4 linked regions of the Homo sapiens genome follow. The protein of the gene in region 4 purifies or fractionates together with the protein of the main gene of each other region. This does not show direct contact. Each region holds a gene or a part of one and is shown on either strand. Other genes may lie near its edges.

Region 1 (6,949 bases), on a different chromosome or scaffold from region 4:
CCAGGGGTACAACCATTCTTGTAGCCTCCAGCCGGCTGGAAGGCCACACGTTCCAACTAAAACGCACACCATCCCGTTCTTCATTCTGCTGGATGAACTCCAGGTATGTCGCCATAGTCTAAAAGGGAACTGAAGATAAAACTTTAATTACCTTAATGGTATGTGAAATTCTGAACTAAATGTCAAAAAAAGAAGATGGGTCATGTAACACAGTGTTTCTCTTTTTTTCCCATCTCAGCTCACTGCAGCCTCCACCTCCCGGGTTCAAGCGATTCTCCTGCCACAGCCTCCCAAGTAGCTGGGATTACAAGCCTGTGCCACCAAGCCCGGCTAATTTTTTGTATTTTTAGTAGAGGCAGGGTTTCACCATGTTGGCCAGGCTGGTCTCAAACTCCTGACCTCAGGTGATCCACCCGCCTTGGCCTTCCAAAGTGCTGGGATTACAGGCGTGACCCACTGTACCCGGCCCAACTAACACAGTGTTTCTTAAATACTTGGGAAGAACCTGTTGCTGTAGAATGACAGTATTTCTTTTCCATCTGATACCCAAAAGTCAGTTAACCGCACAGTTATCATTGATCACTGCTCCTTTCTCACCTCTCCTTTCAAGCACTTAAAAATAAATCAAAGGAGTGGGAGGTTTACAATCACCTGATCATCTCCAAACTACATGTAGTTAAACACTACTACTTCAAACCTCCTCACAGATCACACGTCCTATCAGTCAAGCCAATTTCAGCCCCTTGCTCAAGGGTAAGTCTTGAACCCTGTTTCGGCATCCAACTATCTTCCTCTCTAATCTCCTTCCTTTCTTCCTCTATTAAATTTTACATTCCAAGTGATTTTTTTTTCAGTAGCGGGGGGGTGCTCATTCCCTTCCGCACTTTGTTAACTTTGGAGAAAAGAGCTGGATACTGATCTTCAAGTTTGGTTCATAATGGGAACCAGTTTTGAGCTAAATTATTTCTACTTGGTATTACCAAAATTACTATTATGCTGAGTCTCACCAGAACCTCTTTCCTCACCACGGTTGCTTATGTTCATGCCTTGACAGGCTGTGGTCAAGGCCAGGTGTGGTGGCTCACACCTATACTCGCAGCACTTTGGGAGGCTGAGATGGGCGGATCACGAGGTCAGGAGTTCAAGACCAGCCTGGCCAACACAGTGAAACTCCGTCTCTACTAAAAATACAAAAATTAGCCAGGTGTGGTGGCACGTGCCCATAGTCCCAGCTACTCAGGAGGTTGAGGCAGGAGAATCGTCTGAACTCGGGAGGCAGAGATTGCAGTGAGGCGAGACAATGCCATTGCACAGCCTGGGCGACAGAGCCAGACTCTGTTTCAAAAAAAAAATGAAGACTGTGGTCAGTAAAACTGTCCTACAGGCTAAACTCTCAAACCCAGATGATCCCAACTTCATTGAGTATTTATACATCCTGTTCATATCCTAAAATCTAGGGTAACACACAACTCAGCTATTGGGGTTCAAGGGAACAAGCCCCTCAAGAAAAGTAGTAAAAAGGCAAATTAAAGAGTCTATCAAATTAAAGTGGCCTCTCGCGCCCACTTCCTGAATATGGATAACAACTGTCTGTTATTTTGGGAAGTACCATACTGTAAATAATTTTGATTAAGGCAATAATATTGCATGGCTAGAAAAGCAAATGAATTACTCTACTACATAAAGCCCAGAACACAAGAATTCCAATGTTTGCTCCAACTGAAACTCTAAGAAATCTGTTTATTTCTGGCAACGGCAAGAACCTGAAGCACTGTGTGCACAGGAAGCACTCTGGAGCTTCATGGGAAGCAAAGGGATAACTAAAGTCGGAATGAAAGCAAGTTCTATCACAACTCTCAGCAAGTATGTCAGCAGATTTCATTAAATAACCGTCTCTCTCTCAAAACGTTCTTTATTAAAAGGCACTGGCGGCCGGGCGCGGTGGCTCACGCCTGTAATCCCAGCACTTTGGGCGACCGAGGCCGGTGGATGACCTGAGGTCAGGAATTCAAGACCAGCCTGGCCAACATGGCAAAACCCCGTCTCTACTAAAAATACAAAAATTAGCTGGGCGTGGTGGCAGGTGCCTGTAATCCCAGCTACTCGGGAGGCTGCGGCAGGGAGGACTGCTTGACCTTGGGAGGCATTGGTTGCAGTGAGCCGAGATCACGCCACTGCACTCCAGCCTGGGCGACAGAGCGAGACTCCATCTCAAAAAAAAAAAAAAAAAAAAAGAAGCTACTGCCTCCATCTAATGGTTTCCAAGCATGTACAGCCTAAGACCTGCTCCCTCCTTTTCCTACTGCCTGTTTCCCTCACCCTTCTAGGGTCTGGATTCTTAGCAGTGGACACATAATCCAAGGGGACTATAGAAGGTCCACTAATCATCTGAAGTTATGCGCATGAGGGAATATGCCGTTTTTCTAGGGAGATGGGTCCATAGCTTTTACCAAAGTATCGGGGAAGGTATCTGAAGAGGTAAATAACTGAAAGTATGAATTAGTGAATGAATGAAAGGCCTGGAAAGATAACAGGAGAATATGCCAAAAAATCTGAACCACCCTTATCGCGCCAACTCGTAACTTCTCAGGACACAGTGACCATGTGTATGTAAGAATAAGTGAGGTTTAATCCTTGAAGGGAGTCCAAGGACCTGGGTTCCAGTTCCAGCTGTCATGAAGCAAAAGTCGTTTCACTTGTCTGAGTCTTGAGTTTCTCAACTATAAAACGGGACTTGGGTCCTTCCAGGTGTGCGCACTCCGCAATTCTGGGGAAACTGGAGCCAGAAATCGGTCCCGGCCTGGTGCGGGACGACATCCGCAGGGGACTCCCGGATCATCCATTCCCCCGCTACCCTAAACTGTCAAGAAAAGGCCTCCTCCCAGAAGCCGCTCACCTCGCCCCCGGCAGAAACTCATACCCGTGCCCTCGGCCCTCCGTCACCTATGCGCCCCGCTCACCTGGCCGGAGCCGCTCACCTAGCTAGAGCCGTCCTCACCCACAGCTGCAACAAGCAGGCTCCGGCTCCCACCGCCAAGTCCAGCTCAGCTCTCAACCGATTGGCCAGCGCCCCAGCGCGTCATGCCACGGCGCTGTCCACTGGCCAATCAAAGAGCGCTTCTCCGACGGACTGGAGGAAGCGAGAGACTCAGAGAAGCTCTGCCACCATCTTGGAACAGGGCAAGACAGGTGTATGTCGCACTTCAAAACGAGAGTTCCTCGGAACACGTTTCCCCACCCCTAAACGTTTCTGTTTCAGAAAACCCCGGCGCCTGCCGCACCGTTGCCTAAGCGCAGCCAGCGCTCCTCAGAGGTTCGCCCTGATACAATATGACATCCGCTCGTCTCAGTGGGAAGTCCCGCTGATCGCCTTAGCTACCGGAAAGCGAGAACGATGACGTATGCTCGCGGAACAGGGAGCTGCACTGGTTGGAAGAAACTAAGGCTGCCGGAAGAAGGCATTAGCATGCGGAAGGGGCGGGGCGGGTGGTGAGCGCGGCGGCGCTTACGCACTTGCTGGTTTGGGAGTCGGTCTCTGTGGTTAAGTTTGAAGTACAGAGGTGTGGTGGTGCTTCACGTTACAAGCTCTCCTACCGTCGCTTGCTGTAATGTCTTGGCGCTCTCAGCGGAGGCTGGCACTAGCGCACAGTCCCTGTCATCCTTCTACATGGAGATAAATAATTGAGAACTGTAATATTCAACCATTTTAGGAGAGTAAGCTTAGAAATACATGGAACATAACTTTCTTTTAAAAAATAATTCCAACGTTTAGATTTAGGGGGTACACTGCGTATTTGTTACCTGGCTATGAGGTTTCGAATTCGAATGAGCTGGTCACCCAGATACTGAGCATAGTACCCAAGTTTTTCAGCCCCTCCCTGCCTCCCTCCCCACTCTAGTAGTCCCCAGCGTCTATTAATGTCACCTTTGTGTCCATGTGTGCCCAATGCTTAGCTCCCACTTTCAAGTGAGAACATGTATTTGGTTTTCTGCTTCTGCGTTAATTCTTTTAGGATCATGGCCTCCAGATGCATCCATGTTGCTGCAAAAGGCGCGATAGAACACAACTGTATAAAGCCACCACAACCATTTTTACACACGCTGACAAGTGGCAAACATGAACACATCATTACTGTGACTCAGAGTTGTAGTCTCTGTAGCATATAAAAATAAGCAAAACGATGTAAACATAAAATTATGCAAGAACATATCTAGGCATCCAAGAAGTATCCATTAATTAGCTCAATTTAATACTAAGTTTTAAGTTATCTACAGATCATAGAAATTATTAATAGTTTAAGGCACAAAGAAACAATTACTGTTAAATGTGAGAATGATTCAGTTTTGTTGAACAAATTCACATTTTTCAGGATCTTAAACAATGTAATGTTAATATTAGCTTATCAATAGTAAACTTTTATAAATTTAGGAAGTTCAGATTAATTATTCTCGGTAAGGAAACAAACTCAAAATGTACACATGTATAATACTTAACACTGAGAAAAGACATAGCTGGGATTTTTTTTAACCAAAACTTAATATTATTCGCCAAAGATTTGCCTTGATTATTTGAACCTGGATTCTTTCTGTACTAGCAATTTCTGTAAGAAAGATTGTTATAGGACCATCAGGTTCGATTGTCCATTGTGCGGTAACAGAAAGAATAGGAGTTGCAGCAGATAAAGAGTTCCATAATCAAGTGGCAGCCAAATGAGGAGACAAGAGCAATCCTCAAATCCACCTCCCCAAGAGATTAGAGATGGCATTTTTAAGAAGTCTGGAGGGGCAATGGGCTAAAGTGTGGGGATTTCTGATTGGTCAGGAAGTGAGAGGTGAAGTCATGGGACAGGGAGATGAAGAAACTTCATTCCAGTGTTGTTTCTTGGTGGAGGTCTTTATTTATTTATTTAAAAAAATTTTTTTTTTGTAAAGCAGGGTCTCACTTTGTTGCCCAGGCTAGTCTCAAACTCCGGGCTTCAGGCGATCCTCTCACCTTGGCCTCCCAAAGTGCTAAGATTACAGGCGTGAGCCACTGTGCCCTTCCTGGTGGGGATCCCTAGACAGTTTGGCATCAGCTGTTTTGTGGGAATTCAGGATCTGAAAAATACCTTAAGCAATTCCTGGGTACAAAGAGCTAGTGTCAGAGATTCTGTGGATAGGAGCAATCAGGGAGTAGGTGATCAGTGTGCTGCAAGGCTTTTGGTTAGTTAGCAGCTGCAGGGAAGTGAATTGAAGGGCACCAATGCACCCTGGTCAGTGCCTAACTAACCTGCCTAAAGGCTGGCTTGTAATCTTGTTAACCCTGTCAGGATGGTTTCAGCATTTTTAAGAAATTTTGCATGCATAAGTTTAATTTACTTATTTTCTGGAATTTTAGAAATAATTGATTTACATGTGTTTGTTTCCATAAGTGAATTATAACAGAGCTCCTTTAAGACATGAAATAATATAACTTATTAAAACTTTACAAAGGTAGTAAGATTTTTTTACTCCCACAACAAGAGGGGAAGGCCTTTGTTGATTACAGCCGGGAAGACACATAGACACATAGCATATAGCTTTGGTTCTGCAACTTTGGCCACAGGTCGAAAGTAAATTCAGAAACATAAAAATTCAGTGGACTAGATAACAAAAAGCTGTTCTCCTTCCCAATGGGCATGGAAGTCTTAACTGATTTGAACTCATAAGTAGACAAAAAGGCAAACAAACAAAAAGACTAACAAACCAGATTTTTCATCATCTCTTATCCAAAAGAGAATAGATCTCTAAAAACTATTAATTCACTTAAAGAGATCACCAAATGTTCAGAATGTAAAACCTAGTTCCTAATTTTTTTTTTTTTTTCTGAATGAGGCAATGTATTAACCCAGCATGGTTTGTTCCAATGCTTCTTGTTGGCAGCTGCCACCTGTCCGGCAATTCTGCCCAGATCTCTCTGTCCCTGAGGTGTCAGTTTGCGGCCCCCATCTTGGTCCTTTTCCACCATTTTCAGCCCCTCCAGGGCTTGGAGGACCCGGCGGAGGACACTCTTGAAGCCTCGGCCGAAGTGGCTGGGCATGACGCCGTTTCTCTGACGTCCCCATAGATCTTGGTCATGGAGCCAACCCCAGCGCCACCCTGGAGGTACAGGTGCCGCGCTGTGGAACCGGCTCGTGTGTAGAACCAGTTCTCAACGTAGGGAGGAAGCTCTTTGTGCTTGGCCAGCTTGACGGTGTCCACCCATTCGGGGACTTTCAGCTTCCCGGACTTTTTGAGAAAGGCTGCCAGAGCTCTGACGAAGTCCCGCTGGTTCACGTGGTTTACAGGAACTCCAGGCATCGTGCGGCTTCCGCGCTGCCAGCCAGGGGAAAGGGAGCAACGGGGTTTCCCGCGAGTTCCTAATTGGTGTCGCCATTCATGGGGAAAAATCCGCCAGCTGTGGGCGAATCAGAAACAAAACCCAAAATCAGTAAGGAGGAGAAAGAAACCTAGGGAGAAAGTCAGCAACGCTGTAGTACTATTGCTACTTGGTATTCACTCCCGGAGCCAGGAAAAAATGTGCTTGGGCTTAGCCCCATGGGGTGTTCTTCAGTAATGTGGTTTACCTGGTTCTGTCAGGTGAATCCATTGGGATGTTGGTGAAAGCTTCAAAACTGTTAAAGTGTTTCAAAAGGTAAAATTATGGCCTTCATGCAAATATAAAATGAACATGTGCCAAAGATCTTACTTAACTCATTCATTGATTTTAATTAATCCCTACGACCAGGAGGGATGTTCAGACTGGTTCTAAGGAGAATTTGATTTATAGTGACATATTCTCTATCACACAAAATTGATTTGCATTGCTGTGGACAGGAATAGTTTTCATTGTTGTGGGCAGGGAACATTTGCATTACTATCTTCTATAAGTTAATTTCTATCTCTACAGAGTTGTAAAATAGCATACTCAAAGGCAGAGGTACATCCCTCC
Region 2 (7,025 bases), on a different chromosome or scaffold from region 4:
AGACCAGCCTGCCCGACATGGTGAAGCCCCATCTTTACTAAAAATACAAAAATTAGCCGGGTGAGGTGGTGCTCACCTTTAATCCCAGCGACTCGGGAGGCTGAGGCAGGAGAATCTCTTGAACCTGGGAAGCGGAGGTTGCAGTCAGCTGAGATCCCCCCAGTGCACTCCAACCTGGGTGACAATGAGGCTCTGTCTCAAAAGAGAAAAACAAAGAATTCAAGTAATCTGCCAGGTGCAATGGCTCACACCTATAATCCTAGCACTTTGGGAGGCCGATGGGGGTGGATCACCTGAGGCCAGGAGCTCGAGACCAGCCTGGCCAACATGGTGAAACCCCGTCTCTGCTACAAATACAAAAATTAGCTGGGTATGGTGGCAGGCGCCTGTAATCCCAGCTACTCAGGAGGCCGAGGCAGGAGAATTGCTTGAACCTGCGAGACGGAGGTTGCAGTGAGCCGAGATTGCACCACTGCACTCCAGCCTGGGCAACAAGAGCAAAACATGGTCTCAAAAAAAAAAAGAGAGAATTCAGGTAATCTTTTAACCCCAGAAAAGTGTCTTCCCCAGGTACCAGTCAGACATCTTATTCCCAAACTTCCAGTTGAATATTTACTCTTACTTGTTTTTAGGAAGTACCTCCTCTTATGAGTATTCCCCTAGATAACTGACAGCTTGATTTCATGTTTCAGTTTTCATGCTGCCTTTTTCATCTATAATAAGAAATATTTTAGAAGCTGCCACACTTGAGGAAATATTCGTTGTGTAAAGAAATGCTGTCACTGTCTTAAAAAGTTAGTAGGTTATATAACTGGACTCTGTTATTAAAGGATTAACATAAAATATTTTATGTGTTCCAGGACCCTGAACCATCAATATGACTACACATTTGATTGGACAATGTTAAAGCAGAAAGCAGCACAGCAGGCAGCCTCTTCCAGTGGGCAGGGTCAGCAGGCCCAAACCCCCACAGGCAAGCAAACTGACAAAACCAAGAGTAACATGAAAGGTTAGTAGCCAAGAACCAAGTGACGTTACAGGGAAAAAATTGAATACAAAATTGGGTAATTCATTTCTAACAGTGTTAGATCAAGGAGGTGGTTTTAAAATACATAAAAATTTGGCTCTGCGTTAAAAAAAAAAAGACGTCCTTGGAAAATTTGACTACTAACTTTAAACCCAAATGTCCTTGTTCATATATATGTATATGTATTTGTATATACATATATGTGTGTATATTTATATCATTTCTCTTGGGATTTTGGGTCATTTTTTTAACAACTGCATCTTTTTTACTCATTCATTAACCCCCTTTCCAAAAATTTGGTGTTGGGAATATAATATAATCAATCAATCCAAAATCCTAGACCTAACACTTGTTGATTTCTAATAATGAATTTGGTTAGCCATATTTTGACTTTATTTCAGACTAACAATGTTAAGATTTTTTATTTTGCATGTTAATGCTTTAGCATTTAAAATGGAAAATTGTGAACATGTTGTAATTTCAAGAGGTGAGTTTGGCATTACCCCCAAAGTGTCTATCTTCTCAGTTGCAGAGCATCTCATTTTCTCTCTTAAATGCTCAAATAAATGCAAAGCTCAGCACATCTTTTCTAGTCACAAAAATAATTCTTTTATTTGCAGTTTACGTATGATCTTAATTTCAAAACGATTTCTTTGTTTTTGGCTTGATTTTTCACAATGTTGCAAATATCAGGCTCCCAGGGTTTAATGTGGAATTGAAGTCTGCAGCCAGGCCTTGCAAATTGAAGGTAACTGGGGCAAATGCCATTGAAACCGCTAGTCTTATTTCCTTTCTACTTTTCTTTGGCACTCTTACTGCCTGTAAGGAGTAGAACTGTTAGGGCACACTGTTGCTATACAGTTTAACTCCCATTTTCATGTTTTGTCTTTCTTTTCCCATTTCTGGGGCTTACCTCCTGATACCTGCTTACTTTCTGGAAGTAGTGGGCAAGTAAGATTTGGCTCTTGGTTTCTAATTTTTAAATTTCTGAATACTGCCCTAGTCTGAACTTGGCCTTTATAGATTAATCTTTGCTTCACATTTTTAGTGTTGTATTTAAACTATTTTATAATTTAAAAATAGATTCTAATCTGAAGATACTTTTCAAGAAATATTATTAACTGATGTCATCCTCATCCCAGCAGCTCATCTGTTAGGAATGAAGTTGAGATGCTTCTATTCCATGTTTTTGTATTTGGGAAGGATTCAAAGTTGAAGGTTTATTGTCGTTGGGTTTTTCAGATGGTGACATGTAAACTCAGGATAGCAAACCCTAATGTTCACACAGTGCTCTGCCTCTGCATCTCAGTTGGGATAGTTGCTCCTTTTGAGTGTTTTAATCATCGTATAACTAATCATAGTGCCAAGAAGTTCATAATGTGTTATGTAGCTAATGTCACTGAAAAACAGTCCTACCATTTTAGGTAAGACCAAACAGAGTCTCTAACCCAAGGACTTGTTACACCTGACAACCTATAGTATATTTGCTTTTTCTCACAAAATGAAACCAATTTTGCCGAAAGCTAGCTGGGATAATAGGATCATCACAAGTTGCAGTTTCTATAACTAAAATTAGATTGAAATCTCTTCTGACCTAGAACATTTTACTTCAGGCATTCAGCAGATTTCAGAAAGAATTACCTTATTTTAAGTTAGTTTCTTTGTTAGTTTACTGTGTGTCTCTTATTCAATAAACAAGCAGAATTTGTGTCCTGCCCTATCCATGTCTTAAAGATGAGAAGTTGGATCCACTGAGTTAGTTTCATTGGGGCGGGGGAAAGAACTGTAATTAAACTTGTTTAATCCTTATTTTGTATTGTAGCTATTTTTTGTAAAAGCAACTTAAAATCTTTTAAAAATTTTATAGTGACATTAGAGACAATGGTCATACAAATTATCACATAAACATGGACTTGAAAAATTAGGCTTTTCATAAAACACATCACATGTCATTGACTGCTTTTTAGAAATACACTTCCAAGGCAGTACATCTGTATTGCTACTGAAAAGTGCCATTTCACAGAACACAGACTTCTTTTTGCTCTTTGACATCTTGAAAACATCTGTTTTTCTTTTTTAATACAAAACTTTGTGCTCAAGACAAATCTTACATGAAACTCTCATAAACCATGAAAATGTAGCTGGCCTTCGGGCCTTAGGCATGAAATAAGCATGAGGAACATATTCCCCTAACTTCTACCCCCAGCCCAGCAAGTTATCCTTTAAGAAATCTCCTAGGAATTCTGGAGTTTGAAAACAATTGCTCTATGTTATTCCTGCTTCCAGTCTCTAAGTAACAAGGGCATTTAAAAGCATAGTCTCTTAAGGTCCACTATAGTGGTTCTTTATTTAAGGAATAACTCAGCTGGGTGCAGTGGCTCACGCCTGTTATCCCAGCACTTTGAGAGGCTGAGGCAAGCAGATCACTTGAGGCCAGGAGTTCGAGAGTCTGGCCAACATGGTGGAAACCCATCTCTACAAAAAATACAAAAATTAGCCAGGTGTGGTGGCGTGCACCTATGGTCCCAGCTATTTGGGAGGCTGAGGCAGGAGAATTGCTTGAACCTGGGAGGTGGAGGTTGCAGTGAGCCAAGATTGTGCCGCTGCACTCCAGCCTGGGTGACAGAGTGAGACTCTGTCTCAAAAAAAAAAAAAAAAGGAACTCATACAGCTCAATGATTCATTGATCCCAATAATAAATCGTTTTAATAATGATGAAAACATCCTACTGGGGTTTTCTTGTTAAAAACTTTAGGACAGGCGCAGTGGCTCATGCCTGTTATTCCAACACATTTGGGAGGCTGAGGTGGGAGAATTGCTTGACCCTAGGAGTTCTAGACTTGCCTGGGCCACATAGTAAGACCCTGTCCCAGCTCCCTCCAACATCGTCCCCAACCCCCCCCCCCCCAAAAAAAAAAAGCGCCAGGCGCAGTAGTGAGTGCCTGTGATCCCAGCTGTGTTGGGAGGCTGAGGTGGGAGTATCACCTGAGCCCTGGAGGTTGAGGCTGCAATGAGAGCTGTGATCATGCCACTGCACTCCAGCCTGGGCAACAGATGAGACCCTGTGTCACAACAAGGAATTTTTAGAAGGTGCTTTTTATATTACTCTTCACAGAGTTAAATTTTCAGAGGATTTAGTATTATTGAACTAAGTTTCATAAGTGTATTTTAAGCAAGTAAATCTCTAATGTAGGAAAATCCCCAAAATGGTAGCATTTACTAATGTTTTATATGGTAATTTTTGAAAAATATATCTGATATTTCTTCAGTAAAAATGGTGTTGTTTTAATAACTTAATAAGAATGTTTAAAGATTCTTTAAGTCTGGCTTATCTAGCTAATGTGGGCCTATTAAATAATAGGCAGACTTCTGCCTTCCTTATATTCTTTAGATCTTTTCAAATACTCCATTCCAATATCCATCAAAAGACTTCTCTTTATGCCACTTATTATCTATACTAGTTTTTAATGTTCAATTACTACAAGATTATAATTACTGTTTTTATTCATGTTCCCAAGAAAAATACATAAGATTCACACCCAACACACTTCGAAATTTATTTCACTCCCTTTGACTATATGTGATTATCAAAAAAGTATTTTTCAAGATATTAAAAATAAGTAAAGGAAAATGAAATATTTTTAGGACATTCAAAATCTAATGAAGTTCAGTGTTTCTTTAATTGAGGGCAGGCAGAGGTGGGGGAGAATTTCAGAAGGTAGTGAACCCAAAGGTGGATTCTTGGATAATTCTACTATTCTGTACTCTCATCATCTTAACCCATCTGTTTACTACCCTAACCATAGTTACTAAGCAGAGTTTTATCATAATAATATAGACAGCTCTCAAAGTATTGACATTCAGAGGGGATTACAAATATTATTTTTCTATCATATTGACCTACCATGTCCACAGTCTTCCTTGAATTACCTTCCAGTTTTACTGGGCTGCATCTACCGTTTATGTCTAGTTTGACTTTTTCTGAGTTCACCAATTGCTGCTAGGAATGTGCTGGTCACTCAGCAGCACACCCACATCACAGGGGAAGATTTTGAAATACCTGGACAGTCTGAACACACTGCTCTGAATACACTCAATTCTAAGAAGTACCAGGGAACCGCATCTTCTTGCTGAAATCTTGAATTTTTGTCAGCTTTTTTTTTTACTGTGGACAGTAAAGCTGGAAAGATCTAAATAACCCAACAGGAAATGCGGATGAAAGTGCAAGAGTTGGTTTGTGGTCATCTGGAGTCCATGTCTCCAAGACTGCTGGACCTTCAAATTCTGCAACTTGTTAGATCATCTGGATGATAGCACAACTGTTAGAAGACCTAGAAGAATACAGCGTTGCTATGACTCAGTGGTGTTGAATGCAGACCATCTACCAGCTGGGGAAAGAATCAATTATAAACAGGTATTTTAAAACTCCAGAACGTCAGAAATGTGTAGCAGAATGAATTCTGTTATAAGGAAGACAAAACAATTCAGTCTGTTTTTTAATGCAGTTTAGGAATAGTGTATACCTCCTATACTTAAAATTGTCATTTATCTTTCCCAACTTTAAATACTCTTTTAGTTTCTATAGGGAAGGAAGAGTTATTACAGGTTTTTTTTTTTTAATTATTCTTTAACTTTAGATACTGCCAATCTGATTTAAAATTCTCCAAGCTTAATTCTGTGCAACAAACAGAACCACACAAGCAGCCAGGCACTGTGGCTCACTCCTATAATCCCAGCATTTTTGAGGCTAGATGGGAAGATCACTTGATCTCAGGATTTTGAGAACCATCCGGACAACATAGGGAGACCTCATCGCTATTTTAAATAATTTTAAAAAGAAAAGAAAAAAAAAGGCCGGGTGCGGTGGCTCGCTTCTGTAATCCCAGCACTTTGGGAGGCTGAGGCGGGCAGATCGTGAGGTCAGGAGATTGAGACCATCCTGGCTGACACAGTGAAACCCTGTCTTTACTAAAAATACAAAAAAGTAGCTGGGGCCGGGCGCGGTGGCTCATGCCTGTAATCCCAGCAGTTTGGGAGGCCGAGGCGGGCGGATCACAAGGTCAGGATATCCAGACCATCTTGGCTAACATGGTGAAACCCCGTCTGTACTAAAAATACAAAAAATTAGCCGGGCGTGGTGGCGGGCGCCTATAGTCCCAGCTACTTGGGAGGCTGAGGCAGGAGAATGGCGTGAACCCAGGAGGCGGAGCTTGCAGTGAGCCAAGATCGCGCCACTGCACTCCAGCCTGGGCGACAGAGCAAGACTCCATCTCAAAAAAAAAAAAAAAAAAAATTAGCTGGGCGTAGTGGCGGGTGCCTGTAGTCCCAGCTACTTGAGAGGCTGAGGCAGGAGAATGGCGTGAACCCAGGAGACGGAGCTTGTAGTGGGCGGAGATCGCGCCATTGTACTCCAGCCTGGGTGACAGAGCGAGACTCCGTCTCAAAAAAAAAAAAAAAAAAAGAAAAAAAGAAAAAAAACCCCACAACCATGTTATAGGAAAAGTTAGTATAAATGACATAGCATAATTAATATATTCAAAATAACTTTTAAAAAGTTGTCTTGTAGCTTGAAGGGATCCTAAATATCAAAAGCCCATCACAAACTTACAAGCCTTACTGCTACGTAAATATCCCTTTGAACTAGTTTCTGGTTCTATTTAAAAAGTCGAAAACTGTTGAAATTAATTTACGAATAAGAACAGATACACACTTTGTGGGGAGGCTGAGGTGGTAGGATCTCCTGAGCCCAGGAGTTTTAAGTCCAGCCTGGGCAACATAACAGCAAGACCCCATCTCAAAAAAAAAAAAGCATATCTTTTGTTTATTTTTTTAATAGACAAAGTCTCACTATGTTGCCCAGGTTTATTTGGAACTCCTGGCTTTAAGTGATCTTCCTGCCTCAGCCTCCCAAAGTGTTAGCATTATAGATGTGAGCCACCTCGTCTGGGCCAGAGCATACATTTTAGATTTCAGATTGGGTGGCGGGCAGGGATAGAAT
Region 3 (7,025 bases), on a different chromosome or scaffold from region 4:
AGGAGGGACAGTCACAATTGAGTAGACTGAGAGGAGGCGTGAGGGGCTGGACCAGAGGGCCAGGAGGGAGCGAGGCGTGATGGGGTGAGGGCCCCCCTCCCAGCGCCTGGAGATGGGGAGGAGTGGAATAGGCTGTGGGTAGCAGCTGCTGCGAGTCTCCACCCCGACCAAAGCAGCTGCTCCTCCTGTGCCCAGGCCCAGCCCATGCTCTGTGGCCATGCACCTAGCAGGCACCTAGCGGGACAGTGGCGTCTGCTTCAGGGACATGAGCACCGAGCGCAGGCGGGACACATCTTTGCACTGCTTGCTGCTCTTGGGGTTGAAGTCACATAGCTGGGCCACCTTCTCCCACTCTGTGCCTGGGGTCTCCTCCTTGGATTCCTTCACGAAAGCCTCCTCGGATGCCCTGCGGGTGGAGATAGGACGGGCTTTTATAGCAGTCTGCTTTCCCCCAGCCTTGCCCTTGAGCAAGGCTGCTTTGCCCAGCCTACTCTGGGGCACTGTGTCCTCCCCAGCCTTGTGCCCCCCTGACTTCAGAGGAGGGCAGCCTTGGCGCAGGAGGAAGCCTAGCTTGGTCCTGCCTCAGGACCTTGGCACTTGCTATCACCTCTTCCTGGAACACGCTTCTCCCAGACCTGTTCCTGGCTTGCTGCTTCTTGTCATTCAGGTCTCAGTGCGGGCCTCACCTCCTCAGAAAGTCTTCCCAGCCTAGGCACCCTCTGTTCATTACTTCCCCATCGGGAGTTCCCAACCTGAGGTTCCTGACACCTAAAGACCCTTGGAGGTCCTAGGACGACCTAATGCAGGACCTTAGCTATTTCACCATTTCCAAAAACTTGGCAGAAGTAGGACACTGACTAACCATCTAACAGAAGCACCTAGTTCAGCATTGCCTGAATGTTCTGTGTGAGGATTCTCCAGAAAGACTGTGGTCAAATACCTATGGAAAACCCAGCTAAAGAGGATCTTTACAGCAAGACTTTCAAAGCCTTTCATGTGCTGTGTGCGTCGTGACCCTCCAAGGTGTGTATGTGATGGAATCCACCACATCCCAAGCGTCTTTCACCACAGAGCCCTTTGTAGCCCAGAACCACCACTGTCTCTGAGGAGCCACAGCCTGGGGCATGAATGCTCCACTGGAGTCTGCTTTTGGTTGGAATCAAGTTAGGATGAAAACTGGCGGTCCTTCATCAGAAGTTCTGGTTGACAGTCACAGAAGCCACTGACTAAGGGACAGTGGGGAAACAAGTAAATACAGTCTAGTGGACAAAATCTACACGTGGGACTCACTAACAGAAAGACAATAAGGGATTCTTAGGTGAGGAGAGCTGGGTCTATGTCCTGTTTGGCCAGCGAGGGTCGCTCACAAGTCCCTGGAAGCCCCCTCTCCATCTCAAGCAGGACCAGTTCTGCCGATGCCAGACATGACTGATGGCAGGAGCGCTCCATGGAAGAGCTGACCCCGGATCAGGTGACCTGGCCCCTCTCTAGGGATGCTGGCTGTATGCTCATTTCCTAGCCTGTAAAATGAGGATCATAGCTCTGCCCTACCAACTATTTCACTGGACTGAGAATTCAATGAGGTAGCAAGCAGGTCTGGAAAAAAGGAAAGTGCTGCGTGGAGCTGGGTGGCAAGTGGGGATGAGGGGAGCTATCCTCGGAGCTGTCCCTTCAGGGTCCAGAGGCTCCCCTCTGTCCTTGCAGCTCAAAGCGTCCATGGTCCAATGGCATCAGCATGACGACAGAGCCTGTCAGAAATGCAGACCCTTGGGCCTCCCCACCGTCCTGCTGAATCAGAATCAGGGTTTTCACGAGACCCCCTGGTAATTCATAGGCATGTGAAAGTTTGAGCCTGGGCGCAGTGGCTCACTCCTGTAATCCCAGCACTTTGGGAGGCAGAGGCGGGTGGATCACTTGAGGTCAGGAGTTCGAGACCTGCCTGGCCAACATGGTGAAACCCCATCTCTACTAAAAATACAAAAAATTAGCTGGGTGTGGCCAGGCGCGGTGGCTCATGCCTGTAATCCCAGCACTTTGGGAGGCCAAGGTGGGCGGATCACGAGGTCAGATGGAGAGCATCCTGGCTAACACGGTGAAACCCCGTCTCTACTAAAAAATACACAAAATTAGCCGGGCATGGTGGCGGGCACCTGTAGTCCCAGCTACTCAGGAGGCCGAGGCAGAAGAATTGCTTGAGCCCAGGAGGCGGAGGTTGCAGTGAGCTGAGATCATGCCACTGCACTCCAGCCTGGGTGACAGAGCAAGACTCCGTCTTAAAAAAAAAAAAAAGTTTGAGAAGCCCTGGTCTATACTCTCTCTTCAGGGCTCTCCTGGGTGCTCTCTGGGCCATTTCCTCAGGCTCAACAGAAGCATCGAGCCCCCTGTGGTATTCCACAGCACCCATGCCCATCTGACATCCCCATCCCTTGCTGGAAGCCTCCTGTGGCTCCCCACTGCCTTCTGGATCAAGTCTGAGCTCAGCCTTGGCACAACAGGCGCTTTGCAACCAGCCCCAAGCCAACCACCTCCCAGCCTCAGCTCCCACCCATCCCCACCATCCCCACCATCCCCACCATCCCAGCCTGTAGAGCTTCAGCCACTGCAGCCAGCTGGGCCTTTTCTCTCTGGATGCCTTGGCCCCAGCTGCTCCTCCCACCTTCTCTTCCCACCCTCCCTATCCAGCAAACTCCTTCTCACACTTTAAGGTCAGCTGAAGGTCTTGCATCTCTGAAGCCTGCCCAGGCTCCCCAGGCAGAGAGTGGCTTCCAGAGCTCACTGTGTCCTTCCACAAGGCCCTTATCATAACACACTCCAGACCATGAGCACGGTGAGGGGGGCGGCCTGTGGGTGTCTTACCAATCTGGCACAAGGCGAGTGCCAAAGAGTACTAAATGAGGGAGAGTGGAAGGAAGCAGACGAAGGCTCTGGTGTGCTCTGTGCCCTGTGAGAGGAGGCTTAGCCTCGACACATGACGGGCTGCCAGGGCACACCTAGAGTGAAGAACAGCAAGTACCTTCTCTTCAGCTCCACAATCCCCACCACCACCCTCCAGGATGTCTCTACCAACTAACTGACGTCGGCACGAGATATAACCTGTTTGCCAACCCTGGTCTTGATTACTCATCACACCAAGTAGACCCCAAACCTGAAACATGTGAGGGGGCCTGTGGTGGTCTGGGCAGGGGCTGATGGCCAAAGTCAGTGCACTGGGGCAGGAGGAAGAGATGGATGTCACAAAGGAGCAGCTCTTGTCCTTTACATGCCTCCAGCATCCCATGCTCAGTGTCTGTTTTGTTGAATAAAAGACCCCTTCAGCTGGGTGTGGTGGCTCATGCCTGTAATCCCAGCACTTTGGGAGGCCGAGGTGGGTGGATCACCTGAGGTCAGGAGTTCGAGACCAGCCTGGCCGACATGGTGAAACCCCGTCTCTACTAAAAATACAAAAGTTAGCCGGGCACGGTTGCATGTGCCTATAATCTCAGCTACTCGGGAGGCTGAGGCAGGAGAATCGCTTGAACCCAGGAGGTGGAGGTCGCAGTGAGCCGAGATCGCAGCACTGCACTCCATCCTGAGCAGCAAGAGCGAAACTCCATCTCAAAAAACAAAAAACCCTTCACCCCACACACCCACCAAGAGACATCACAGAGGGAGGGAGTTGGGGTGCTCTGCCATTTGCCCCTCCCACATGGGAATAAGTGGCAAGCACATTCCTTTCTCTGCCTTTATCCTGCAAGGCTCTGATTTAGCCAAGCAGCCTCCACTTCACTGGAGGGAGGGAGGTGGTTGCTGCCTGCACCCACCAGGGCATTTGCCTCCTGTTCTGACCATTGCTCCGAGCCCAGCCACACTCATTTATATCCCACAAGCAGGAAACTCAAGAAACTGTGGTGGCCATTCCCTCTCTAGCTCCCCCAACAGAGAAGCAAAACAGACACGTACACGTAGCCGATGATATCAGCATCTGGCTGCTGGTAGAATGCTTTGTCAGCGATCCTTGAGGGAAAGGTTGAGGGAAGGGGTTAGGTGGGGGAAGGCAGATGGCAAGACAGACAGGCAGGCAGAAGGTTAGAGAGAGAGAGAGAGACAGCATTAGTACCTCCAGTGGGAGAAATGTTAGGAAGCATAGTTCTGGAAGGCTCAGCAACGACCCACAGCCCCAAACAGGAGAATGGGGACCTTCACCCTGGCCCCAGCACCTTCTCTAAAATTCATCCCTGATCATGTTACTCCTGTTCAAACACCTTCAGTGGCTCCCCACTGCCCATGTCACTGCCCAACTCATCAGCCAAGGCCCTTACAGTGTGAGTCCACAGGTTCCTGCCTTCTCTCCCACCGCTCCCTGGCCCCCTGTTGCCTAATACATCACATTTTTTTCTTCGTACCCAGGTCTAGAATGCCCCCCTACCTCCTGCCCTTTTTTCCCTTTTTTCCTCCTAGTCATCTTCCAAAGCCCAAGTCCCAAGACACAGAGGTCTCTCCCTGACCTGTTTCCTTGCTTCCATGGCCTTCGTGCAGAGGGCCCTACTGTATTTGAGCTTAGTTGAACATGTGTGTTTTTCTCCTCTGCGCCCTTTGAGGACATAAGGCTGGGTCCTCCTTATCTCCATCTCCTCCGTGCCTACCCCAGAGCCTGGCATGCAGCAGTTCCCTAGACAGAAGGGTAGCTTCCCAGAACAGGCCTTTCCCTTCCTGGAAGACCTTGTACCGTGAAGGACAGAGCCTCAAAGGCAGGGAGCACTGGGCAGTGTTCAGTCATGTCCCCACAGCCCCTCTCATGTCCCCATAGCCCCTCTCATGTCCCCACAGCCCCTCTCATGTCCCCACAGCTCCCTCTCATGTCCCCACAGCTCCCTCTCATGTCCCCACAGCCCCTCTCATGTCCCCACAGCTCCCTCATGTCCCCACAGCCCGTCTCATGTCCCCACGGCCCCCTCATGTCCCCACAGCTCCCTCATGTCCCCACCCCTTCATGTCCCCATGGCCCCCTCATGTCCCCACGGCCCCCTCATGTCCCCACAGCCCCCCTCATGTCCCCATGGCCCCCTCATGTCCCTACAGCCCTCTCACCGGTTGTTGATCTTGTTCTTCTCTACTTGTTCACTCTGGCGCTGGTTCCACTCCTCCAGGTCCTTCTTGGCCTTCTCCCGCCATTCCTGTTCCGTGACCTTAGATGCAGCATCTAGGACCCCACAAGAGAATGAGTGGCTGCTTTCCAGCTGGGATGCACAGGCCCGGCCGCGCTCCTCCCCTGGCCCCTGCCAGGCAGCCACAGGGCCGCACCGGCCCAGTCCCACATTAAGGCATGCAGCATCCCATGCACTCCGAGGACTCCCCACACTCCACCCCACACACAGCCCACCCAGCCAACCCCGCCTCAGCCCCGCCCTCACCCAGCTCTTGCAGCCGTTTCCTCTGCTCCTCTCGCCACTTGCGGATGCTCTCAGGCTCCTGGGTCAGCCTGTCAGCCTGGGCAATGGCTGCGTAGCCATCAGCAGGACCGTTGGCCTCCTAGAACACAAACACGCAGCAGTCTATCCAGCCAGCACACCTGCCCCGCTGTCTCTGCTGCCCCTGCTGGGGACCCACTCATGTCTGGATAACTCAGCCTCAAACAACCTCATACCCACTGTCTCTGGTGACTACACCTATCTTTGCACTTGCTGTTCCCTCTGCCAGCAACACTCCGCCACCTGTGTGACTGCGGGCAAGTTACTCACCCTCTCTGTGCCTGATCATTGCCTCTGGCCCAGTTATAGGTTTTGATACCCCCAAAGCAGAAGACTCAAGAAAGCGTGTGCCAGCCACTTTCTTTGTCATAAAATGGGCTAAATAACAGTATGCACTCTGATGGGAGGACATAAGGATGAAATGAGTTAAAAATTATAAAGAATGTCGGGCGCAGTGGCTCACACCTGTAATCCCAACACTTTGGGAGGCCGAGGCGGCAAATCACCTGAGGTTGGGAGTTCAAGACCAGCCTGACCAACATGGAGAAATCCCGACTCTACTAAAAATACAAAAAATTAGCCAGGCGTGGTGGTGCATGCCTGTAATCCCAGCTACTCCGGAGGCTGAGGCAGGAGAATCACTTGAACCCGGGAGGCAGAGGTTGCAGTGAGCCGAGATCACACCATTGCACTCCAGCCTGGGCAACAAGAGCAAAACCCCGTCTCAAAAAATAAACAAATAAAAATAAAAAATAAAAATACTGCTTGGCACAGTGAGTCCCTTGTGTTACCGTCATTAAAATCACTCTCTATTGTGGTTGTATTAACTCCTAACACTTAGTCCAAAAAGACCTCAAGACCTCACTTTTTTTTTGAGATGGAGTGTCCCTCTGTTTCCCAGGCTGGAGTGCAATGGTGCAATGTTGGTTCACTGCAACCTCTGCCTCCCAGGTTCAAGCGATTTTCCTACCTCAGCCTCCTGAGTAGCTGGGATTACAGGCACACGTCACGACACCCGGCTAATTTTTTGTAGTTTTAGTAGAGACGGGGTTTCTCCATGTTGGTCAGGCTGATCTCGAACTCCCGACCTCAGGTGATCCACCGGCCTCGGCCTCCCCAAGTGCTGGGATTACAGGCTTGAGCCACCGTGACCAGCCCAAAAGGACCTTACTTTATAATGTGTTTGTCTGTCTCTGCCATCAGAATGTCATCTCTGTCCTTTTCACTGCTATGTCCCCAGAGCCCAGCACAGTGCCTGGCCCAGCAGATGCTCAGTAGATGTTTGTTGAGTAGAGAAGCATCCCTGAGATATGCAGCATGATCATAGCTCAGATCACACCATGGGAAAGAACTTGGACTCTGCAGCCAGGCTGTCTCGGTTCAGATGCCACCTCTGATACTATGAAATGTTTGTAAGGCCTGGGAGAAATTGCTTAACCTTGCCTGACTTTTGTTTTCTCATTTGAAAAATGGGGCTGGGCATGGTAGCTCATGCCTATAATCCCAGCACTTCGGGAGGCCAAGGCAGGAGGATCACTTGAGGCCAGGAGTTTAAGACCAGCCTGGGCAACACAGCAA
Region 4 (7,025 bases):
CGCAGCAATTTCAGCAGTGGCCCCGGCTTCCCAGAGTATGGCTACCCTGCCGACACCGTCTGGCCTGCCATGGAGCAAGGTGTGTGCTCAGCAGGACAGAGGGATACCGGCTAACCCCACTGGGGCGGCCACCCAGCCTGGCATCTGAACACGGGAGTCAGGGCTGGGATTGGAATTGTGATGTCCTGGCCTGGCTCTGACCCAATCCGTCCTTCCGAGAAGCAGGGTGTGTCAGGACGGGCCGATGCTGTCTCTTCGATTGCAGTTTGGTTTAAGGCCTGAGAGCTGCCCTGCCTGCCCCGACATGCGTTTTAAAGTGTGACTCTGAGGACAGCTCATATCCAGGCTCTGGGCAGCCCCTGATCACATCCCCATCGCAGACCCCGTGGCTCAGCAGGCGTGCAGGAGGGAGCTGCTCATTCCCCTTGGAGACTCCGCTCCTGCAGTTGTCCCGCGTGTCAGTCAGAGTTCCCTTCCAGGATGCTCAAATGCTTTTTCTTGGCAAATTGCAGAAATATACGTAAAGATATAAAGTTACAGAATTTAATGGTAGGCTGAGTTTTTTTGTTTGTTTGTTTTTTGGTTTTTTTGAGATGGAGTCTCACTCTGTCTCCCAGGCTGGAGTGCAGTGATGTGATCTTGGCTCACTGCAACTTCTGCATCTCGGGTTCAAACGATTCTCCTGCCTCAGCCTCCTGAGTAGTTGAGATTACAGGTGTTTGCCACCATGCACAGCTAATTTTTGTATTTTTAGTAGAGATGGGGTTTTGCCATGTTGGCCAGGCTGGTCTCAAACTCCTGACCTCAAGTGATCCATCCTCCTCGGTCTCCCAAAATGCTTGGATTAGAGTGTGAGTCACTGTGCCCGGCCTTACTTTCTTAAAGTATTGTTTCAGTTAACATTTTTTCATTTCTTTTTTTTTAAGAGACAGAGTCTCACTCTGTCACCCAGGCTGGAGTGCAGTGGCACGGTCATGGTCTCTGTCTCCTGGGTTCAGGTGGCCCTCCTGCCTTGGATCCTTTCAAAGTGCTGGGATTACAGGCATGCACCACTATGCCTGGCTCCTTATTTTCTTTTTTGCTTGAGGTGTTTTGCTGTCCTTTTTGCTGGGTGCTGTGTGGTCATCGCAGTCTGAATTTGATTTTGTGAAAATGGAAGAGCTCGGGAGTGGGCCAGGCCTGGGAGGATTACGCACCGTGGCAGGAGCCTCAGGGCGGCTCATGAGGGTGTTGCGGGAGCTTTCTCAGTGTACAAGGGAACAGCTTTCATGCTTAATGATTCAGACATTTTTCTTTTCCTGACGTATGCTGAAGTTCTACTTTTAAGTATGATATTAAACAATTACCGACTTTTGAGTTGGAAGTCTGTCGTGATAAATCTAACCTGTGATTTAAGCTGTGTGAGCACATTGAAAATCTAGGCTCAGAAGCATCAGTGACAAGCTGATTGTTTCTTTTTCAATTTATTTTAAATGCAGTTTCATCAAGACCAACTTCTCCTGAAAAATTTTCAGTGCCTCATGTCTGTGCCAGGTTTGGCCCTGGCGGTCAGCTTATCAAAGTGATTCCCAATCTGCCTTCAGAAGGACAGCCGGCCTTGGTGGAGGTCCACAGCATGGAGGTAATGGCACACGCAGAAGCGTGGCGTCACTGCTCTGCTGCCCTGGGGAACTCTCTGCTTTGCAGTTTGTCATCTTCAATTGTCAGACCTTGTCTCTGGACATACGTCCTTGGAAAATGTTTATTCCTGTGAATTTTCAATTTGTAGGGTTTTTCTTCTATTTGATCATATATTTTTCCTCCTAGAAGTCAGTATTGTAAGCGTCTGCCTTGGGTGTTCAACGTGGTTTGATTGTATATGCATTTTCTGTCCTCGTTTTGGGGATGTTTGCTTTATTGGTGCTTTTCAATGATAGATGCAGTGGGTGGGCCCGGTGCTGCCCAGGTGAGGGGGGCGGGTGGGGTGGACGTGCACGGCGCTGCCGAGGTGACGGGGGCTGGCATGCGCCTCTTCCTGCAGCTTCTGCAGGCTTCTGTCACATGTATTGGGGTTCTGCCTCAGTATTTGGGGAGAGAAAATGGATTTCACTACTTAAAATAAAGTTTGAAATCATGGCTGTGGTCCACACAGGCCATGTTCCATGTAACAGCCTCGACAGAGCCTTCACCTGCTGTGGGGCGGGGCAGGTGGGCCATGCCATCCTCTCCTCTCACGGGCAGCATCCGTGCCTGGGTTGGCCGGCCTGCCAGCAGGGTGGCTGCGCACTGGCTGCCACTGACCCACGGCCCTCTCCTCGTAGGCCTTGCTGCAGCACACGTCTGAGCAGGAGGAGATGCGGGCGTTCCCGGGACCCCTGGCCAAGTATGTTCCTTGTTGAGGCATTTCTTTGTGAGCCCGGCCTTGCAGACATCACTGCTCACTGTGTGTTCTTTCTGCAGAGACGACACCCATAAGGTGGATGTCATTAATTTTGCACAGAACAAAGCTATGAAATGTTTGCAGAATGAAAACTTAATTGACAAAGAGTCTGCAAGTCTTCTTTGGAATTTTATTGTTCTCTTATGCAGACAAAATGGGGTATGTTTCTTTCTACTTCTAGAGTGTTTCTTCTTGCTGGTCTTCATTTCGTCTTGGGAATGCTCAGCCTCCCGAAGGAGCAGGGCGGGATCCGCGTGGCCAGCTATGGGAGCCTCGAGGGCCCCCTTAGGAAGCACACTGTAGTGGCTGGGTAGGGAGGGAGAGGGAACGTGCGGTTGGGATGGGATGAGGTTTCAGCCCAGCCTTGCCAGCCTTTCGGGTAGTTGTGGGTCTGGCTGTGTCCAGGGTGGGGCTTTGTGCCTGTGGTGGTCCAACGCGTCCTCACCTGAGAGCCGTTGTTCTCCTTCCTGTTCCTGTTGACCCAAACAGACCGTGGTAGGGACCGACATTGCGGAGCTTCTGTTACGAGACCACAGAACAGTGTGGCTTCCTGGGAAGTCGCCCAATGAAGCAAACCTGATTGATTTCACGAATGAGGCAGTGGAGCAGGTGGAAGAGGAGGAGTCTGGTGAGGCCCAGCTCTCTTTCCTCACTGGTGGTCCGGCGGCTGCCGCCAGCTCGCTCGAGAGAGAGACCGAGAGGTTCAGGGAGCTGTTGCTGTATGGCCGTAAGAAGGTGCGCCTCCTCATCATGGCACCTGGCGCCTGCACATGTCCACTGGGTCGGGCCTGGTGCGGGGTTGCAGCCTTCAGGGAGGGACGTGGCCCCCTCTTGGGAGCATCCGCGCTGCAGTGTGGGGCTTCGGGTCTTGCTGTTTCCTGAACAATGCCTGACTCTTGTATGCCATCCTTCTGGAGGTGTTAATGTTGGTTTCCTTCTAACTGTTTCCAGTGTTGGAGACCTGCAGATTAAATTTTCAGTTATTCGATAAATGCACATGTTGAGCACAGGCCGTGCCCCTGCTGTGTGTGCCAAATCTCGGATGAAATGTGCATGACACAAGTTGTGGCATTCTCACAAAGTCAGACTCGAGTCCACAGCCCAGAAGTCATTGGGAGTTGGGAGGGCACACTGAACCTGTCAGAGGCGCAGTGCATGGAAAGGCCATGGGCAAGAGAGCAGCCAGTGCGTGTAGCGTCCAGTGACTGGGGTCACAGCAGCGTGGGGACTGGGGCAGGTGGGGGGCCTGAGACAGGAGCCTGCTCTGGGACAGTGGGGTTGGGGGGTCCATAGTGACTGCAGCAGTGACACTATGTGCACAGGAGGGGCTGTCTAGGGTGCATGATGTTTGCTTTGGATGTGCTAAGCAGGAGAGAGGCCAGTCTCAGAAGCATGTGTGGCCCTGAACAGCAGAGACATGGGATAGGCTGAGAGTTTTCTGTCCTTTTATATCATGATAAACTCAGAAAGGGCATATTTGACCAGTATTTTTATTTTTTTATTTTTAATTTTTTTTGAGACAGGGTCTCACTCTTGCCCAGGCTGGAGTGCAGTGGCGTGATCACAGCTTAATGTGGCCTCGACCTCCTGGGTTCAAGTGATCCTCCCATCTCAGCCTCCTGAGTAGCTGGGACTACAGCTGCATGCCACCACGCCTGGCTAACTTTTTTTTTTTTTTTGTAGAGACGGGGTTTCACCATGTTGCCAGGCTGGTCTCGAATTCCTGGGCTCAAGCAATCCGCCCACCTTGGCCTCCCAAAGTGCTGGGATTATAGGCATGAGCCACCGCGCCCGGCCTGATCAGTATGAGTCTATTATGGATGTTTTATAACTGATTGAAGTCATGTAACCTGTTAGCTTTTATTAACATCTTTCTCTACTGTAACGTTTTTGCCTCCCAGCCAGAAGTTCTAAATTATGCCCTGGATGATTTTGGTGAAAGGGGAGGCTGCCTTACTGGAGTCACTCTCCGTGTTGACAGGATATTCGCGGAGGCCTCCTGTTAGAACTGGGGAGTTGACTCGAGCGTGTTTCCCAGTGGATGGGGCGGCGTGGTGGGCAGCGCTGCGTGATTAGCCCTGTTTGTGATTAGCGTGCTTGTGTTTTATGCTGAAAATGGATAAAAGCAGCAAATATCTACAAATACCCACTACCACAGGGACTTTGAAACTCAGGAAAATAATGAATCGCTACGTGTCTTTAGTCTCCAAATGGTGAATAAGTGTGTTTTTGAGGCCTTTGGGTTGTTTGTGTATCTGCTGCTGCGTGAGGACACATGGCCTGTCTTGACTCATGTCACGTGAGCGCCGCCGATAACCCACCAAGGTCCCTGAAATGCCTTTTGCAGGATGCTTTGGAGTCTGCAATGAAGAATGGCCTGTGGGGTCACGCTCTGCTACTTGCAAGTAAGATGGACAGCCGGACACACGCCCGAGTCATGACCAGGTACAGTCCCACAGTGGCCTGGTCCAGTGGCGAGCCCTGCTGGCTCCCTGTAGCACGCGGCGTCCGCACCCTGGGGGCAGGCGGCAGGCGGATCTCACTTGACTGTGCTGTGCTCCCACACGAACTCGGGCTTCCTTGGCCTCGAGGCTTCCTTGGGTCGTGTTGTGGAGAGCTTAAAAAGTTTTTAATTAACTGCATGGTTTTTAGTACTTCATGTAAAATCTCAGTGAATTCCTCAGTCTTCATCTTTTATAGCTTTTTTTAAATTTTGAGTTTTGCTCTGTTGCCCAGGCTGAAGTGCAGGGGCGCGATCTCAGCTCACCGCAACCCCTGCCTCCCAGGTTCAAGTGATCCTCACGCCTTGGCCTCCCAAGTAGTTGAGACCACAGGCACCCACCACCACACCCAGCTAATTTTTTGTATTTTTAGTAGAGGTGGGTTTTGCCATGTTGGCCAGGCCGGTCTCAAAACTCCTAGCCTCAAGGGATCTGCCCGCCTTGGCCTTCTGAAAGTGCTGGGATTACAGGCGTGAGCCACCATACCTGGCCTTATCTTTTACAGCTTTTTTTTTTTTTTTAATATTGAGATAAGAAAGAAAAATAAAATATTGAGATGTGTGTACTTTGCCTAAGTGAAATATAAGTCTAATCATTACATCAGAGGGCTTAGGGCTGATTTTTTAAAAAATTTATTTTATTACTATTTTATTTATTTATTTTTTTGAGACAGAGTCTTGCTCTGTCACCCAGGCTAGAGTGCAGTGGCACGATCCCAGCTCACTGCAACCTCTGCCTCCTGGGTTCAAGCGATTCTCCTGCCTCAGTCTCCTGAGTAGCTGGGATTATAGGTGTGCACCACCACACCCGGCTAATTTTTGTATTTTTAGTAGAGATGGGGTTTCTCCATGTTAGTCTCTTAACTTCTGACCTCAGGTGATCCGCCCACTTTGGCCTCCCAAAGTGCTGGGATTACAGGCGTGAGCCATCATGTCCGGCCGGCTTTTTTCTTTTAGCTGAGCCAGCATGGGGTCTTTCTGTGTTTATGTCTGCCTAGGTTTGCTAACAGCCTCCCAATCAACGACCCTCTGCAGACAGTCTACCAGCTCATGTCCGGACGGATGCCTGCCGCGTCCACGGTGAGTGGCACTGCCTGGTGGCTTGCACAGGCTCCACTGCCTGTGTGGAGTTTGCTCGTGGGTGACGCTGTCACAGGCCGTGAGGTGCCTGGTGAGCCCAGCTGTGTGGAATTGAAATGGCGCTGGCTTCCGGGGATGAGGCTTCGTTTTGTTTTTCCTCATGTTAGTGCTGTGGAGACGAGAAATGGGGAGATTGGAGGCCGCACCTCGCCATGGTCTTGTCCAACTTGAACAACAACATGGACGTCGAGTCCAGGACGATGGCTACCATGGGCGACACTCTGGGTAGGTCAGGGGTGGAGATGGGCATTGGGTGTCGCGGATGGAGCGCCGAAGGCCCGGTTGTCTGTGGCGTTGGCAGAAATCACCAGAACCCGGCCTTCTCGGTCCGGCTGGCGTCTCTGGTGCCTTCTGTGCGCGTCCTTGACTTCTGCAAGCGCTCCCGGTCGCTGAGCCCCCGCCGTGTGTCGTGTCGTCTCTCCGCAGCTTCAAGGGGCCTCTTGGATGCGGCCCACTTCTGCTACCTCATGGCCCAGGCGGGATTTGGTGTTTACACGAAGAAAACTACAAAGCTTGTCTTAATCGGATCCAATCACAGGTAAAGAACCAAGTCAGTGTAGTCCTGTAAGTTTTCCTTTCAAAGTAAAACAAAATCCTTCTCCTTTAGTGAATTCAGAAATGGCCAGAATCATGTCTTTATTTGTCACGTGGTGGGACACACTTCTGGATGATTTGCTCCAAGGTTGACTATGCCAATAATTGGCCATTTTTTCCAAATCAAAATAATTCACTTCCTCTACAGTTTGCCATTCTTAAAGTTCGCAACCAACGAAGCAATCCAGAGGACGGAAGCCTATGAGTACGCCCAGTCCCTGGGTGCCGAGACCTGCCCCCTGCCTAGTTTCCAGGTAAGCAGGTGCTGCCAGCCTGCAGCTGTCATGGCTGGGCAGGCACTCAGTGCTAACAAGCTTTTGGCTACTTAGATTGTTTGAATTGGTATCGAAAAAAATGATGTGAGTTTTTTGG

What was found.
Region 1: the proteins of SEC16A (region 4) and SEC23B purify together in Homo sapiens (affinity purification with mass spectrometry; 3 studies listed by BioGRID and IntAct, with this or other methods). This does not show direct contact.
Region 2: the proteins of SEC16A (region 4) and CSNK1A1 purify together in Homo sapiens (affinity purification with mass spectrometry; 5 studies listed by BioGRID and IntAct, with this or other methods). This does not show direct contact.
Region 3: the proteins of SEC16A (region 4) and CLTB purify together in Homo sapiens (affinity purification with mass spectrometry; 2 studies listed by BioGRID and IntAct, with this or other methods). This does not show direct contact.

The regions. Positions count from the first base shown.
Region 1 is NC_000020.11:18,504,002-18,510,950, reverse strand, and holds the start of SEC23B (protein transport protein Sec23B), read right to left. Parts: upstream 3,012-6,949; 5' UTR 2,979-3,011; exon of another isoform or gene 2,654-2,978; intron 130-2,653; 5' UTR 116-129; coding exon 1-115. UniProt on the Homo sapiens protein: Component of the coat protein complex II (COPII) which promotes the formation of transport vesicles from the endoplasmic reticulum (ER).
Region 2 is NC_000005.10:149,499,431-149,506,455, reverse strand, and holds part of CSNK1A1 (casein kinase I isoform alpha), read left to right. Parts: intron 1-860; coding exon 861-1,009; intron 1,010-7,025.
Region 3 is NC_000005.10:176,392,540-176,399,564, forward strand, and holds part of CLTB (clathrin light chain B), read right to left. Parts: intron 5,509-7,025; coding exon 5,391-5,508; intron 5,180-5,390; coding exon 5,068-5,179; intron 3,994-5,067; coding exon 3,940-3,993; intron 407-3,939; coding exon 235-406; 3' UTR 1-234. UniProt on the Homo sapiens protein: Clathrin is the major protein of the polyhedral coat of coated pits and vesicles.
Region 4 is NC_000009.12:136,459,016-136,466,040, reverse strand, and holds part of SEC16A (protein transport protein Sec16A), read left to right. Parts: coding exon 1-79; intron 80-1,478; coding exon 1,479-1,621; intron 1,622-2,300; coding exon 2,301-2,362; intron 2,363-2,439; coding exon 2,440-2,578; intron 2,579-2,908; coding exon 2,909-3,154; intron 3,155-4,766; coding exon 4,767-4,864; intron 4,865-5,917; coding exon 5,918-5,999; intron 6,000-6,166; coding exon 6,167-6,284; intron 6,285-6,485; coding exon 6,486-6,597; intron 6,598-6,801; coding exon 6,802-6,907; intron 6,908-7,025. UniProt on the Homo sapiens protein: Acts as a molecular scaffold that plays a key role in the organization of the endoplasmic reticulum exit sites (ERES), also known as transitional endoplasmic reticulum (tER).